Linked DNA regions of Homo sapiens: region 2 is linked to region 1. A link means that fine-mapping ties the variant in region 1 to the expression of a gene that starts in the linked region. Tissue or cell type: whole blood. Region 1 holds a variant in brackets; the other region holds the start of a gene. All regions are shown on one strand. Distances are between the middles of the regions.

Region 1 (8,174 bases):
ACCCCATTCCTTCAACCTCTCCACCTCTTTCCTCTTTTGTCTGCCATGTGATTACTTTTCCATCACCAAGGTTGATGAGATCCTTACTGTGTACTTACTGTCTCCAAGCATCCCCAGGCTTCCAGCCAGCACGCAGCAGCCAACATTGGCTTCAGAAGGAAGGAGGTTTGCATTTCCTTCTCTTGGGTCCAGTGCCATGGTCTCAGGGTTATCTCCAATGTGGAAAGTTGCTAGACCAGGAGCAGTTTGACTCCACTGTTTTTCAGTCTAGCAAGTTTGAGTTTTTCCCAAGCTCTTGATGTGTGTTCAAATGAATGTTCTCCCTTTCCCAAGAGACCTCCCTATAAGGGAGGGTCTAGTTTCCCGGGGTGCCCTGAGAAGAAGGGGTCAGCAGGGGGGAGGAATGGTGGAGGCTGAGGCCTCAGGCAGGTGCCCTGTGAGGAGTGGCTGTGACAAGCGGCTGAGATCCCAGCAAAGGGTTGTTGCCCAGAATCTGGGGCCTAAGCGAGGTTGGAAATCACAAATGCACTTGGTTTCTCTAGCAGCTGGCACATAGTAGGATCAGCCCAGGAGTGGCACCTTCAAAGAGAAAGGAACGCATGAGGCTCCGAGAGCGGTCGGCTGGCAGCCAGGGCCTGGCTGGGGAGGGAGGGCAGGTGGTGCGCTGACCTGGGGATCTTTGAGAGTGTGCAGGAGTATGTGGCTGAAGCGGCCCAGCTGGTGAGCCACTGAAGATGGGGGTCATAGGTAGATGGAGGAATTGCCAGGTCAGAATCTCGGTAGGAGATGACTTGAGCTGATGCTGCCTGGCACATAGGGGTTTAGAAGATATTAGGAAGGAAGCCCCACAGCGTGCCCAAGTGCCATGCAGGCCCTGGAGACGGTCATTGGAGGGCGTCTGTGGATGGCGCAGTGGGGGATGGGAAGTCCCTAATCTGCTGGGGCTTTCCCAGCAAGCAGGGACTGAGGGGGATAGTCCCCAACACATGGGCCCCAGGGAGAAGGGCCTGTTTCATTGAGGTTTGGAGAGTGTTGAGGGTAAGCTAACCTGTCACCCCACGCCCCCGAGAATGGTTACTGATAGGGAGAGGCCTTTTCCTTGCAGGAGATGGCGTCTACCAGAAGGGGATGGACTTCATTTTGGAGAAGCTCAACCATGGGGACTGGGTGCATATCTTCCCAGAAGGTCAGCAGGGCTGACTGGGTCGAGCCCCCCCAGTATGAGCGGGATGGGCTCCCAAGCCTCGCCTCTGTGCTCTCTCACCAGGGAAAGTGAACATGAGTTCCGAATTCCTGCGTTTCAAGTGGGGTAAGGGCTGCTGGTCTCTGGCCACAGCCATCCTCCCGGCCCAGAGATGGCCCTGTGGGCCCCTGGCTCCCGCCCCCTCGGGCTGGCTTGTATGGGGGTAGATGGGCGTGTTTGTAGCGCCAGGAAGGGGACAGGTGCTGAGACTAGGCCTGCCTCTCGCAGGGGCTTGCCCAAGGGAGCTGAATTGAACTGGAGGATGTCGGGGGTGGCAGTGGCCAGAGGCTGGCACAGAAGCTTGGCTCAGGGCCCAGCTTATGCTAACATTTCTACCTCCCCCCTGGGCAGGAATCGGGCGCCTGATTGCTGAGTGTCATCTCAACCCCATCATCCTGCCCCTGTGGCATGTCGGTGAGCCTGGGGACGGGGACAGAGAGATGGCATCTGGGGTGGGGGGCCTGGGACTCCCTCTGGTCCCAGGCTGCCCTGCTCCACCCCACGTCTGGCCTTCTGTCCACTGTGCTGCAGGAATGAATGACGTCCTTCCTAACAGTCCGCCCTACTTCCCCCGCTTTGGACAGGTGGGTGGGGACTGCTGACCTTCGGCTGTCTGCCTGTCTGCTGTCTGCTCCGTGTCTCCCACTCAGCACTATGGAGGCCAGCTGCAGGAGGAGCTGAGCATGAGGCTACAGCAGGGGACAGAGTGGAACATAGACAGGGACTTCCTGGCACCGAGACATTAAAATGAGAGCAGAGGAAGTCAGGCTGGGGCAGAGGTGGGCTGTGGGGTCAGGACAGGACAGGTCATCTACAGCACAGGACCCAGGACCAGGACCTTGTTTTAGAGGAAGAGTGGCCCCTGGGGAGTGTGTGGCACAGCAGGGCCGGGGCTTAGCTTCTGGCTCCCGGGTTGCTTGGGCTGGGGCTGTGGGCACTCCTACTGCTCCTCATCACTCTTGGCGGCCACCCCACAGAAAATCACTGTGCTGATCGGGAAGCCCTTCAGTGCCCTGCCTGTACTCGAGCGGCTCCGGGCGGAGAACAAGTCGGCTGTGAGTTTCCTCCTGGGTCCCCCGTAGCTGTCCCCGGACCCCCTGCTGCTGGCTTCCAGCAGGGTGCCTCCACCCTCTCCATCCCGTCACCCTCCCAGGGCACCCTCCCAGGGCACCTTGGCCAAGCTTCCCGAGGGGTGCAGGCCATCCCTGGTCCTTTCCCTCAGGTGGAGATGCGGAAAGCCCTGACGGACTTCATTCAAGAGGAATTCCAGCATCTGAAGACTCAGGCAGAGCAGCTCCACAACCACCTCCAGCCTGGGAGATAGGCCTTGCTTGCTGCCTTCTGGATTCTTGGCCCGCACAGAGCTGGGGCTGAGGGATGGACTGATGCTTTTAGCTCAAACGTGGCTTTTAGACAGATTTGTTCATAGACCCTCTCAAGTGCCCTCTCCGAGCTGGTAGGCATTCCAGCTCCTCCGTGCTTCCTCAGTTACACAAAGGACCTCAGCTGCTTCTCCCACTTGGCCAAGCAGGGAGGAAGAAGCTTAGGCAGGGCTCTCTTTCCTTCTTGCCTTCAGATGTTCTCTCCCAGGGGCTGGCTTCAGGAGGGAGCATAGAAGGCAGGTGAGCAACCAGTTGGCTAGGGGAGCAGGGGGCCCACCAGAGCTGTGGAGAGGGGACCCTAAGACTCCTCGGCCTGGCTCCTACCCACCGCCCTTGCCGAACCAGGAGCTGCTCACTACCTCCTCAGGGATGGCCGTTGGCCACGTCTTCCTTCTGCCTGAGCTTCCCCCCCACCACAGGCCCTTTCCTCAGGCAAGGTCTGGCCTCAGGTGGGCCGCAGGCGGGAAAAGCAGCCCTTGGCCAGAAGTCAAGCCCAGCCACGTGGAGCCTAGAGTGAGGGCCTGAGGTCTGGCTGCTTGCCCCCATGCTGGCGCCAACAACTTCTCCATCCTTTCTGCCTCTCAACATCACTTGAATCCTAGGGCCTGGGTTTTCATGTTTTTGAAACAGAACCATAAAGCATATGTGTTGGCTTGTTGTAAAATGTCTCTGGCCTCTCTGTAGGGGTGAAAATGGGAAGTGACTGCTGGACAGAAAGGCTGAACCCTTAGTGCCCTGGGGACATGGAGCACACTTGAGCAGATGGGCATCAACCTCTTCTGCACCAGTCACTTAAGGCTTCAGTTATTGTCTGTAATCCCTGTAACAACATTGCAGAAATAGGGATTAATCTCATTTTGCCAAGGAGGTGGAGTGAGGCTAATGAACTTGCTTCAAAACCCAAAGCTAGCCAGGTAGATTGGGGCCACACTTCAGAGAGACCCAAGTGTGGAGAATCAATTGGATCCTACCTGGGCTGCATCATAGGTGGGAGAGGAGCTCTGAAGAGCCCGGCAAGTAGCCAGCCATGAGCAGTGCACGCTGTGATCAGGAGGTAGGATTGGGGTTGCCCAGATGGAGCTGGGGGTCCTGGGTGGGAGCAAAG[G/C]CAAATCCAGGGTGGTGGCGTAGACACAGTATTAAAAATACTATAACAGAAACGTGGAAAGAAAGAAAATATAGAACCACCAAAGATGAGCCAGCAACAAGAGAAGATTCAGACAACCAGGTCTTTCAGCAGTGTTGGTGCCTAATTATTTCAAAATAAAAGGTTTTTAAAAAAATGACCAAAAAGGGAAAAAAATTACCTGGGAAAAAACAAACACTTGTAATTAAATATAGATAGAAGCAGCTGGGCACCATGGCTCACGCCTGTAATCCCAACACTTTAGGAAGCCAAGGTGGGCGGATCATTTGAAGTCAGGAGTTCGAGACCAACCTGGCCAACATGGTGAAACCCCATCTCTACTAAAATACAAAAATTAGGCCAGTCGCAGTGGCTCACACCTGTAATCCCAACACTTTAGGAGGCCGAGGCAGGCAGATCACCTGAGGTCAGGAGTTTGAGACCAGCCTGACCAACATGGAGAAACCCCGTCTCTACTGAAAATACAAAATTAGCAGGGCATGGTAGCGCATGCCTGTAATCCCAGCTACTTGGGAAGGCTGAGGCAGAAGAATCGCTTGAACCTGGGAGGCGGAGGTTGCGGTGAGCCGAGATCGAGCCATTGCACTCCAGCCTGGGAAACAGCAGCGAAACTCCGTCTCAAAAAAAGAAAAAAAAAAGGCTGGGCCTGGTGGCTCACACCTGTAATCCAAGCACTTTGGGAGGCCGAGGCAGGCAGATCACGAGGTCAGGAGATCGAGACCATCCTGGCTAACATGGTGAAACCCCGTCTCTACTAAAAATACAAAAAAATTAGCCAGGCGTGGTGGCGGGTGCCTGTAGTCCCAGCTACTCTGGAGGCTGAGGCAGGAGAATGGCGTGAACCCGGGAGGCGGAGCTTGCAGTGAGCCAAGATCACACCACTGCACTCCAGCCTGGTCGACAGAGTGAGACTCCGTCTCAAAAACAAACAAAAAACCCCCAAAAAATTAGCTGGCGTGATGGCGCACGCCTGTAATCCCAGCTACTCAGGAGGCTGAGGCAGGAGAATCACTTGAACCCAAGAGGCAGAGGTTGCAATGAGCTGAGATCGTGCCACTGGACTCCAGCCTGGGCGATAGAGGGAGACTTCATCTCAAAAAACAAACAAACAAATAAACAAACAAAAAAACACACCAGACACAGTGGCTCATGCCTGTAATCCAGCACTTTGGGAGGCCGAGGCAGGCAGATCACAAGGTCAGGAGATCGAGACCATCCTGGCTAACATGGTGAAACCCCATCTCTACTAAAAATACAAAAAAAAAAAAAAAAAAAATTAGCCAGGCGTGGTGGCAGGTGCCTGTAGTCCCAGCTGGAGGCTGAGGCAGGATAATGGCGTAAACCCAGGAGGTGGAGCTTACAGTGAGCCGAGATCGTGCCACTGCACTCCAGCCTGGGCAACAGAGCGAGACTCCGTCTCAAAAAAAAAAAAAAATTAAAAATAAAAGAAAGAAAAAGGAATATTTTGATACATGCTATCAAATGGATACTCTCAAAGGATTTTCAAGAAACATTATGTTAACTGCAATAAGCCGGAAACAAAAGGCTGCATATTATATGATTCCACTTATATGATGTACTTACCGGCTTCAGATCCAGAGTCAAAAAGTAGAAGGTTGGTTTCCAGGGCCTGGGAGGATGGGGGAATGAGAAATTGTATAATGGGGACAGAGCTTTAGTTTGGGAAGATGAAAAGAGTTCTGAAGATGGATGGTGGTGATGACTGTACAACAGTGTGAACGTACTTAATGCCACTGAACTGTACAGTTAAAAGTGGTTAAGGCCGGGCGTGGTGGCTCACACCTGTAATCCCAGCACTTTGGGAGGCCGAGGTGAGCGGATCACCTGAGGCCAGGAGTTTGAGACCAGCCTGGACAACATGGTGAAACCCCCATCTCTACAAAAAAAAAAAAAAAAATTAGCTGGGCATGTTGGTGGGTGCCTGTAATCCCAGCTACTCAGGAGGCTGAGGCGGGAGAATCACTGAAACCCGGGAAGCAGAGGCTTCAGTGAGCCAAGATTGTGCCATTGCACTCCAGCCTGGACAACAAGAGCGAAATTCCGTCTCAAAAAAAAAAAAAAAAAAGGCATTTCACAGAAGAGGAAACACAAAAGGCAGAGTGTGCATGGTATGGGTTTCCTGTGGCTGCAGTAACAAAGTGCCAGAGACTGGGAAGTTTAAAGCAACAGAAATTTATTCTCTCCCAGTTCTGAAGGCCAGAAGTCCGAAATCAAGGTGGCACCAGGGTGGGTTCCTTCTGGGGCTGTGAGGGAAAGCCAGCTCCAGGCCTGTCTTCTGGCTTCTTCCGGTGGTTCCCAGCAATGCTCCGTGTTCCTTGGCTTGCAGAGGTGTCATTCCAATCTCTGCCTTCAGCTGCGTGCAGTGCTCTCCTCCCTGTGTCTGTCTCTTTTTCTCCTCCTTTAAAAACACCATGCATTGATTGAACTAGGGGTCACCCTTATGCAGTATAACCTCACCTTAACTTGATTCTGTCTGCAATGACTTTTATGGGGACACTACTCAACCCAGTGCATATACTCTATGACCTAGCAATTCCCCACCTAGTTATATACCTATTGAAATGAACATCTATGTTTAACAAAAGACACATACATCGGCTGGGCGCAGTGGCTCACGCCCATAATCCAAGCACTCAGGCCGAGGCGGGCAGATCTTGAGGTCAGGAGATAGAGACCATCCTGGCTAACACAGTGAAACCCCGTCTCTACTAAAAATACAAAAAATTAGCTGGGCATGGGGGTGGGCACCTGTAGTCCCAGCTACTCAGGGGGCTGAGGCAGGAGACTGGCGTGAACCCGGAAGGCGGAGCTTGCAGTGAGCTGAGATCACGCCACTGCACTCCAGCCTAGGTGACAGAGCGAGACTCCGTCTCAAAAAAAAAAAAAAAAAGAAGAAAAAGAAAGACGTATACATAATTGTTCACAGCAGCATTAGCCATAACAGCCCAAATGGGAAACCAACCAAATGTCAACAGTTGAAGGACACAATCAATGGTGACGTATTCATCCAGGGGAATACTATGCAGCAACATTGTTACATGCAGCCACTTGAATTAATCTGCCAATGTTGAGCAAAGAATCTAGACACAAAATAATACTTCCCTTCAGAGTGGAGGAGAAGGCTGAGTGCGGTGACTCACACCTGTAATCTCAGCACTTTGGGAGGCCAAGGTGGGTGGGTCACCTGAGGTTAGGAGTTCAAGACCAGCCTGACCAACATGGTGAAATCCCGTCTCTACTAAATACAAAAAATTAGCCGGGCGTGGTGGCACATGCCTGTAATCCCAGCTACTCGGGAGGCTGAGGCAGGAGAATTGCTTGAATCCGAAGGTTGCAGTGACCCGAGATGGCGCTATTGCACTCCAGCCTGGGCAACAAGAGCCAAACTCTGTCTCCAAAAAAAAAAAAAAAAAAAAGAGTGGAGGAGGGAAAAATATTATACTGAATAATTTCCTTTATTTAAAGCCTCAAAACAGCCAAAACAACACATCCCATCATTTTTAGGAATGCATGCTTAACTGGTCAAACTATAAAGACCAAAGTGATTAGCAAAAGAATCAAGTTCATGGTCACATTGGGAAGTGATAGTAAGGGTATGAGAGGGGCTTTCAGGGCAATGATATTCAAATTCTTGACCTGGGTGATGCCATGGAACTGTCTGCTTTGATAAGCATTACACTGTACATCTTTATTTTGTGGGTTTTTTTTTTTTTTTTTTTTTTTGAGACAGAGTTTCGCTCTGTCACCCAGGCTGGATGGAGTACAATGGCATGATCTCTGGTCACTGCAACCTCTGCCTCCTGGGTTCAAGCGATTCTCCTGCCTCAGCCTCCCGAGTAGCTGGGATTACAGGCGCATGCCACCATGCCCGGCTAATTATCTTGTATTTTTAATAGAGACGGGGTTTCACCATGTTGGCCAGGCTGGTCTCGAACTCCTGCCCTCAGGTGATCCGCCCGCCTTGGCCTCCCAAAGTGCTGGGATTACAGGCGTGAGCCAATGCGCCTGGCCTACTTCTTTTCTTTTTTGGGTTACGTTTCACCATAGAAGTGCTTTTTTTTTTTTTTTTTGAGACAGAGTCTTGCTCTGTCGCCCAGGCTGGAGTGCAGTGGCACGATCTCGGCTCACTGCAAGCCCCATCTCCCGGGTTCACGCCATTCTCCTGCCTCAGCCTCCCGAGTAGCTGGGACTACAGGCGCCCGCCACCACGCCTGGCTAATTTTTCATATTTTTAGTAGAGATGGGGTTTCACCGTGTTAGCCAGGATGGTCTTGATCTCCTGACCTCGTGATCCGCCCGCCTCGGCCTCCCAAAGTGCTGGGATTACAGGCATGAGCCAAAGTGCCCGGCCCTTTTTTTTTTTCTTTTTTTTGAGATGGAGTTT
Region 2 (8,174 bases), 43 kb before region 1:
CTCAGGAGACAGATGGGAGGATCGTTTAAGCCCGGGAGTTTGAGGCTGCAGTGAGCTATAATTTCACCACTACACTCCAGCCTGGGTCACACAGTGAAACCCTGTCACTAAACATAAAAAAAAAGGCCAGGTGCGGTGGTTCATGCCTGTAATCCCAGCACTTTGGGAGGCCGAAGTGGGTGGATCACGAGGTCAGGAGTTCAAGAACAGCCTGGCCAAGATGGTGAAACCCCGTCTCTACTAAAAATATAAAAACTAGCCGGGCGCAGTGGCAGGCGCCTGTAATCCCAGCTACTCGGGAGGCTGAGGCGGGAAAATCGCGTGAACCCGGGCGGCAGAGGTTGCAGTGAGCCGAGATCACGTCACTGCACTCCAACCTGGGTGATAGAGACTCCGTCTCAAAAAAAAAAAAAAAAAAAAAAAAAAAGGCCGGGCGTGGTGGATCCCAGCACTTTGGGAGGCTGAGGCAGGTGGATCACGAGGTCAGGAGTTTGAGACCAGCCTGGTCAACACAGTGAAACCCGGTCTCTACTAAAAATACAAAAATTAGCTGGGCGTGGTGGCAGGCGCCTGTAATCCCAGCTACTCGGGAGGCTGAGACAGGAGAATCGCGTGAACCTGGGAGGCGGAGGTTGCAGTGAGCTGAGATTGCGCCACTGCACTCCAGCCTGGGTGATAGAGCTAGACTGTGTCTTGGAAAAAAATAATAAATATAAAAATAAAAATACAAATAAAAAAATAACGTTAACAGCTCAGTGAACAATCATCTACTTGTCATAGACACTGAGGAATGTTTCCATGTTGATATTTTTTCCTCGTAACTCAATCATGTTGGGATTGTAAGTTATACAGCATATACTGCTTGCAAGCCATTCCATCCTTAAGGAGCAACTCAGTTTTCTTATTCTTGACTTAGAATTGGTTGCATCCCGATGTCTCCTCTGCCTGCACTTCCCAGGAAGAACCCCCTGAGGCCCTCAGATTTTCCTGCACACGCCCTTCCCAGACCCTCTGATGACTGCAAATCCCACCCTACCCTTGACGGGAAACTCTCTGAGGCTGTCCAGGTCATCACCCCCAGGGACCAGGTACTGGTGGGGGAATGTTCCATGAATTAATTGCTGTACTCAGGGCTCTTGGACAAGTCTCCCCTGATCGCAGGGTCCTGACTCTCCCTGTATAAGATGGAGGCTCTGCTGCTCAGGAGCCTGCCTGGCTTCCAGTGGTCTGGAGTGGAGCTGCACTGCAATGGGGCTGGACTTAGGCTCCAGGTACCCACAGGGTGGGTGCAGGGGGACCATCACAGTTCAGCTTCCTGGTGCCATCTGTGGTGGGACCTGATTGTGGGGCAAAGGGGTGGGACATAAAAGGCAGAGTGTCGAGGCAGGTACAGAACGGGTGGGGGGTGCTCCTTAGGGAGAAGGCAAATCTAGAATTCCTTGACCTCATAAGGAAACAGCTTGGATCCGTATGGGGAGGGGTGGCATGGGGGAGGATGGAGCAGCACTTAGTACACAGAGGCCTCTGGGAGAGGGGCCAGGATTGCAGAAGGCTTGCAGAGGTGCTGGGGAATCTGATTTTGTCAAAACTAAAAAATCCACAAGGCAGCCTCTGAGCAGCCCAGAGTCCAAACTGCCATCTGTCCCCTCAGCTCTGAAAGATGAGGTGCAAACCCCTGCCCTACCCAAGGCTCTCCTGCTGCACACTGCCAGGCACTGTCTTCATGGACCCACACTTCCTTCCATATTGCTGGGGACACAGTGGGGCCTTGCCAACAGTGATTCCTCTTTGTTAGGATCTTTGCGTGTAGTCAAAACAGGGCCCCATCTCCTCATTACTCCCCCAGGTGTCTACCTCTTCCCACCCCATGGGCAAACCTCCATGGATGACTGGTCTGTGACCCTCACCAGCCAGGCCAGCCATTCTGGACATGACCAGAGCCCTCCCCTCTTCTTCCCTTGTCACCAGCCCTCAACTGTGAAACTACAGATGGCATGTCACCTCTTCATGCTCCCAGTTTGGGGCCTACCCAGTGAGGGGCACACTAGTTGATTCCATACACCCTCAGCTGGCTTTGTTTAGAATGTGAATGTCACAGCCAGGCGCGGTGGCTTATGCCTGTAATCCCAGCACTTTGGGAGGCCGAGCCGGACTGATCACTTGAGGTCAGGAGTTCGAGACCAGCCTGGCCAACATGGTGAAATCCTGTTTCTACTAAAAATACAAATACTAAATACTAAAAATACAAAGCCAGGCATGGTGGCATGTGACTGTACTCCCAGCTACTCGGGAGGCTGAGACAGGAGAATCACTTGAACCCGGGAGGTGGAGGCTACAGAGAGCCAAGATTGCACCACTGCACTCCAGCCTGGGTGACAGAGCGAGACTGTCTCAAAAAAAAAAAAAAAAAAAAAAGAATATGAATGATGAATGTCACCTCCTTTCTCTTCTCCATGAGACAGCCAATATCTGATCAAGGCCCTGGGAATGGGAATCCATAGCTCGCCACCCACGTCTGCCCCCTGCCTAGCCACGCTGCGCTCAGGGACCATTCCGACAGGAGAGGACGCCCCACTTCAGCTCCCCCCAGTGCCCCGGGTGAATGAACGGCATGAAGGGTTAGGCGGGCACACGTCGTCTCTGCACGCATCGCACGGCGCCCTCTGCCCGCGCCCACTGGCGTGCCCGTCGGCATGCCCGGGCCCCTTCGAAGACTGCTTGCTTCTGGAGTGCCAGCGGCCTCCTGGCCCAGTGCCCCATTTCCTCCCGGGTGGAGCGAGGGAGGAGGAAGGGAAGCAGAGGGGTAGGCGGTGGTAAGCAGCAGGCACATGTGCGCGGGCGAGAGCCCCGCAGACTGGGAAGGCGGGCCCATGGCAGGGGGTCTGCGGGGATCGCGTAGGCGCGGGCCTTGCCCTGCAGCCGCTTCCCGGGCGATGCGCACACAAAGCGCCCTCGGCAGCGCCTGGCCCGGGGCCCGCGCTCTCTTAGGGTCCGGGCCCTTCCCGCCGCTGCTGGGGCGGCCGACCGGGATGCGGCCGGGGAACCCTAGGCTCTGGGGCCCTGGGAAGGGGGACGACGGCGGGGAGTAGGGATGTGCAGGGATCGGGCGAAGCCCAAGCGACTTAGGGACCAGAGCCACCCCAAGCGCCGACTTCGCCCGCTCGCACGTCCCGGGTCCCTCGCGCGCAGGCCCCGCCCCTCTCACCCCGCCGCACGCCACAGGGTGACGTCTGGGCTCCCAGCCGCATCGCCCTGACTCCCGCGCGGGCCCCGCCCCCTGCCGCTAGCCAATCTGTGCGTTTGTGACTTTTGGGCCCGCAGCCCCGCCTGCTCCCACAGCGATACCGGTTTGCATTGCCCTGACTCCCGCGCGGGCCCCGCCCCCTACGCCGCTAGCCAATCCATGCATTAGTGGCGTCCGGGCTCGCAGTACCGCTCGCTCCCACCGCGAGACCTTCTGCTCCGCGCCCGCGCGGGCCCCTCCCCCTCCATCGCTAGCCAATCCCCGTTTTGTGACGTATGGGCTCGCGGCCCCGCTCGCTCCCACCGCGAGACCTTTTGCTCCGCGCCCGCGCGGGCCCCGCCCCCTCCATCACTAGCCAATCCCCGTGCTTGTGACATATGGGCTTGCGGCCCCGCCCGCTCCCATCGCGAGACCGGTTCCCACCGCCCTGACTCCCGGGCGGGCCCCGCCCTCTCCGCCGCTAGCCAATCCTCGCGTTGATGACGTTTGGGCTCGCGGCCCCAGCCTCCCAGCTCTCAGGGCACGGCCGGTCTGTGCCGGCTGCTCCCGCGGTTAGGTCCCGCCCCGCGCAGCGCGCGCAGCCTGCGGAGCCAGCGGCCGTGACGCGACAACGATTCGGCTGTGACGCGACAACGATTCGGCTGTGACGCGAGCGCGGCCGCTCCCGATGCGCTCGTGCCGCCCCCGCCGTGCTCCTCGGCAGCCGTTGCTCGGCCGGTTTTGGTAGGCCCGGGCCGCCGCCAGGCCTCCGCCTGAGCCCGCACCCGCCATGGACAACTACGCAGATCTTTCGGATACCGAGCTGACCACCTTGCTGCGCCGGTACAACATCCCGCACGGGCCTGTAGTAGGTACGCGGCGGCGGGCGGGACCCCTTCCGGGCCCCCTCCTCGTGCTCCGCCTCGCGACCTCCCCGCTGCCCTCCCCGCGCGCCTTCCCCGGCCCGCGGCCCTGACCGCCCCGTGTCCGGCCAGGATCAACTCGTAGGCTTTACGAGAAGAAGATCTTCGAGTACGAGACCCAGAGGCGGCGGCTCTCGCCCCCCAGCTCGTCCGCCGCCTCCTCTTATAGCTTCTCTGGTGAGAGCCTCGCCTGTGGGGACAGCCTGGGACGCGGGGAGGATGGGGTCGCGAGGGTGTGGCAGGGGGGCCGGTCGAGAGCGGCACTGGAGAAAGGGGAGGGAAGTCTGGGGGGGCAAACAGTTCTGTCTCCTCCTTTCAATCCAGACTTGAATTCGACTAGAGGGGATGCAGATATGTATGATCTTCCCAAGAAAGAGGACGCTTTACTCTACCAGAGCAAGGGTAAGGCAGGGGTTGGGTGGGCACGCTGGCACCTTCACCCGACTTCGTCAGGGACCCCGCTCACAGGGAGGACCTGAGACCTCAGTCCCAACCACTCCAGCAGCCTTAGGAGGGAGAAACTGTTACAGGTCCCGAAATGGGATTCAGATTAGGGCCATCAGGCCAGGCGGGGCACACCGATGCCCCCTCTGCTACCGCTGCCCCCCTTCCCAAGGCTACAATGACGACTACTATGAAGAGAGCTACTTCACCACCAGGACTTATGGGGAGCCCGAGTCTGCCGGCCCGTCCAGGGCTGTCCGCCAGTCAGTGACTTCATTCCCAGATGCTGACGCTTTCCATCACCAGGTGAGCTGGCTGGCAGGCGTCCTGTACTTGGGTACAACCTAGGGGATCGCGGCTGTGTTTGGATAAATCCAGGGGGGCACTGGGTACAAATGGTGGCTCTTGGGCCTCCGGGGAGACTCTGTGTGACTAGAGCACCCTGGTCTGGGATCTAGGCTCAGACTCTTCCTGAGAGTCCTGGGGGCAAAAGGGGATGCTGGGGCATGAGCACAAGTGGCAAGGCCCCATGGATAAAGGGCTGAACACCCAGAGCCATTCAGGAGGGTGTGGGTTCCTGGCCTCTAACCAAAGGTCAGAGGGGACTGGCTGGGGAAGTTTGGACTGAGGGACATGACAGGGCCATGGTGGCCCTGCCAGCCAGTCCCCTCGCCCTGACTCTCTTCTGCAGGTGCATGATGACGATCTTTTGTCTTCTTCTGAAGAGGAGTGCAAGGATAGGTGCGTAGTGGGGGAGCCCAGGGACGGGCTGGTTCTGGGTCCAGGCTCCTGGCCCACTTGCTCCCCTCTTTTGCCTCAGGGAACGCCCCATGTACGGCCGGGACAGTGCCTACCAGAGCATCACGCACTACCGCCCTGTTTCAGCCTCCAGGAGCTCCCTGGACCTGTCCTATTATCCTACTTCCTCCTCCACCTCTTTTATGTCCTCCTCATCATCTTCCTCTTCATGGCTCACCCGCCGTGCCATCCGGCCTGAAAACCGTGCTCCTGGGGCTGGGCTGGGCCAGGATCGCCAGGTCCCGCTCTGGGGCCAGCTGCTGCTTTTCCTGGTCTTTGTGATCGTCCTCTTCTTCATTTACCACTTCATGCAGGCTGAAGAAGGCAACCCCTTCTAGAGGGAGCCATGAGGGTCTGGGCTTCAGAGCTAGGTCTTTGGGGAAGTCCTGGCTGACTGCCTTAGCAGTGGGGGTGGGGGTGGGGGCAGGGGCAGGGGCTTTATGTGTTTTTGCTTGGGGGGCGCTGGGCCTAGCCCAGAGTAGTGCTTGCTCCCCCTGCCTTGTCCCACCAGGGAGGCAGCAGACTCAGGCCCTCCATGGTCCTCTTTGTCATTTTGTTGACATGCATTCCTCCTTTTGTCATCTTGTTGGGGGGAGGGGATTAACCAAAGGCCACCCTGACTTTGTTTTTGTGGACACACAATAAAAGCCCCGTTTATTTGTAATGCGTTGGCTCTTCCTGGAGGAGAGGGTTGGGCTCCCATGGCAAGGGCCTCTGCGTCTTGGGGCTCCAGGATTGCAATCCGGCTTTGTTGGGTCCGCATTTTTGCTTTAGTCTGGGGATAGGAATCAAATGTTACCCAGAGATGTTTGTGTTTTGTTTGGGAGTTTTATTCCCTAACTCATTCCCCAAAGCACGTGTAACTGCTTATACATATAATCGTGGTACAACAAGGTATATACAGAGAACCCACTTGGAAATTCAGGCAAAGCTGCATGCACGCTACCAGCAGTCTGCGGGTGTTTTAACTGGAAAAAGCTGAAGTCCACCTCGGTGTCCAATGGCATGGGGATGGAAAGAAAATGAGGCGTCTCTGGCACATCATTCTCAGCTCCTGGAACTGCTGCTTGTTTAACATGGGAGAAAAGCTCCAAAGGCTGAAATGCCCCATCATCCCTGGGTGATTGAATTCACCTGCCTATATTCTCACTTAGCTCCCAGGTTTTCTGCCCTGGGTATGTATTTCATAATCTTCAAAGTATATATATATATAATTTTTTTTTTTGAGACGGAGTCATGCTCTGTCACCCAGGCTGGAGTGCAATGGCACAATCTTGGCTCACTGCAACCTCTGCCTCCGGGTTCAAGCAATTCTTCTGTCTCAGCCTCCCTAGTAGCTGGGACTACAGTCGCGCACCACCATACCTGGCTAATTTTTGTATTTTTAGTAGAGACGAGGTTTCACCGTATTGGTCAGGCTGGTCTCAAACTCCTGACCTCAGGTGATCCACCCATCTTGGCCTCCCAAAGTGCTGGGATTACAAGTATGAGCCACCGTGCCCAGCCGAAGTTTACTATATATATTATATATTTATTTATTTTTTTGAGATGCAGTCTCACTGTCGCCAGGCTGGAGTGCAGTGGCGCAATCTCAGCTCATCGCAACCTCTGCCTCCTGAGTCCAAGCGATTCCCCTCCCTCAGCCTCCCGAGTAGCTGGGACTACAGGTGTGCACCACCGTGCACGGCTATTGCTTTGTATTTTAGTAGAGACAGGGTTTCACCATGTTGGCCAGGATGGTCTCCATCTCCTGACCTCATGATCCACCCACTTTGGCCTCCCAAAGTGCTGGGATTACATGTGTGAGCCACCGTGCCCAGTCTACATATATGTTTTTAAGTGGAAAGTGGGTACTAAAACCCAAGACAATGCCACGTGTTGCTGTGCATGCCTGGCTCTATGCTGCTGGCAGAGGGCGGGAGAGCACAGAGGGGCTGCCGTCCACTGCACACGGGCAGGTGGGAAGCAGAGGCCCAGCAAGGGGTGGGGTGCTGGCATTAGTCACCCAAGCCTTTGGCTCCTTGCTGCAGGTAGTGGGACAGCCCAGCCTCCCACACTTGGCACAGCTCCCATGTAGTGCCTGCACATGCATTTGTGGAGGCAGGGCTGGGGCTGGGACCCTCCCTGGCTACTCCTGACCATTTATCTTGGCTGCATCCTCGTCTCTCCTCACGTATATTTTTGGTCCTAAAATAGTACATGGTCCTTGTGTGTTGCAAACATGCAGAAAAGAGTGAATCACTTCTAATTTTCTTACCACTCACAGTTTCAGCCTTTCTTGTTTCATTGCTATGAGCTCCTCTTACCTGGCTCACCCCGCAGTGCCCAGCCACTTGCTGTGTGGATTCCCCAAGCCCCTGCCCTCTGCCCCTCACCATCCCAAGCCCAATGCAAAGACTGATGGCTGGCCCTGCAGCAGGCGAGACCTGGATGGTCCATGGCGGGTGGTAGGCATGGGCAGGGGATGCCACCTCCTCACAGGTCCACCTTAGGGATTCAATGGTCCCATTAATGAGCCTGTACATGGGGGGCAGAACAAACAGGTTGCTACTGCCAGGACCCTAGAAGGACGCAGTGACAGAGCCTCCTGTTTCAGCAGCTGATAAAAACCAAGTACACTGACAGGAAGAACCGAACTCACCTCAGTCCAGTTCCCCCAGGAAGCACTCACTACCTGGGATTGGGGCTGGACTGCAGCCCAGTGTGGCTGGACAGAGGCAGATGGGGCCTAGCAGGAACCTACATGGGACCTGGGGTGGTGGCAAGGTTGACATCCCAAAGCTCTG

What was found. PIP is the estimated chance that this variant, and not a neighbour inherited with it, causes the effect.
Region 2: it holds the start of EMD, and the variant in region 1 is fine-mapped to the expression of EMD in whole blood (TOPMed, PIP above 0.99).

What each region holds. Positions count from the first base shown.
Region 1 is chrX:154,418,438-154,426,611 of GRCh38, forward strand. TAFAZZIN (tafazzin, phospholipid-lysophospholipid transacylase) reads left to right here. Exons shown (of 11, transcript NM_000116.5): 6 at 1,106-1,186; 7 at 1,268-1,309; 8 at 1,595-1,657; 9 at 1,775-1,827; 10 at 2,221-2,298; 11 at 2,466-3,289. The coding sequence ends at 2,567. ATP6AP1-DT (ATP6AP1 divergent transcript) reads right to left here. Exons shown (of 2, transcript NR_103768.1): 2 at 5,943-6,188. Among named protein-coding and RNA genes, the nearest start is that of ATP6AP1-DT, 6.0 kb to the right of the region's middle. RefSeq lists enhancers at 1,151-1,652, 1,653-2,152. The variant G/C (reference allele first, on the strand shown) is at 3,731.
Region 2 is chrX:154,375,472-154,383,645 of GRCh38, forward strand. It overlaps EMD (emerin), which reads left to right and starts at 3,824. Exons shown (of 6, transcript NM_000117.3): 1 at 3,824-4,095; 2 at 4,219-4,323; 3 at 4,471-4,548; 4 at 4,763-4,896; 5 at 5,282-5,331; 6 at 5,411-6,052. The coding sequence starts at 4,014. The coding sequence ends at 5,726. RefSeq lists silencers at 2,915-3,044, 3,065-3,484, 3,495-3,794 and an enhancer at 4,202-4,781.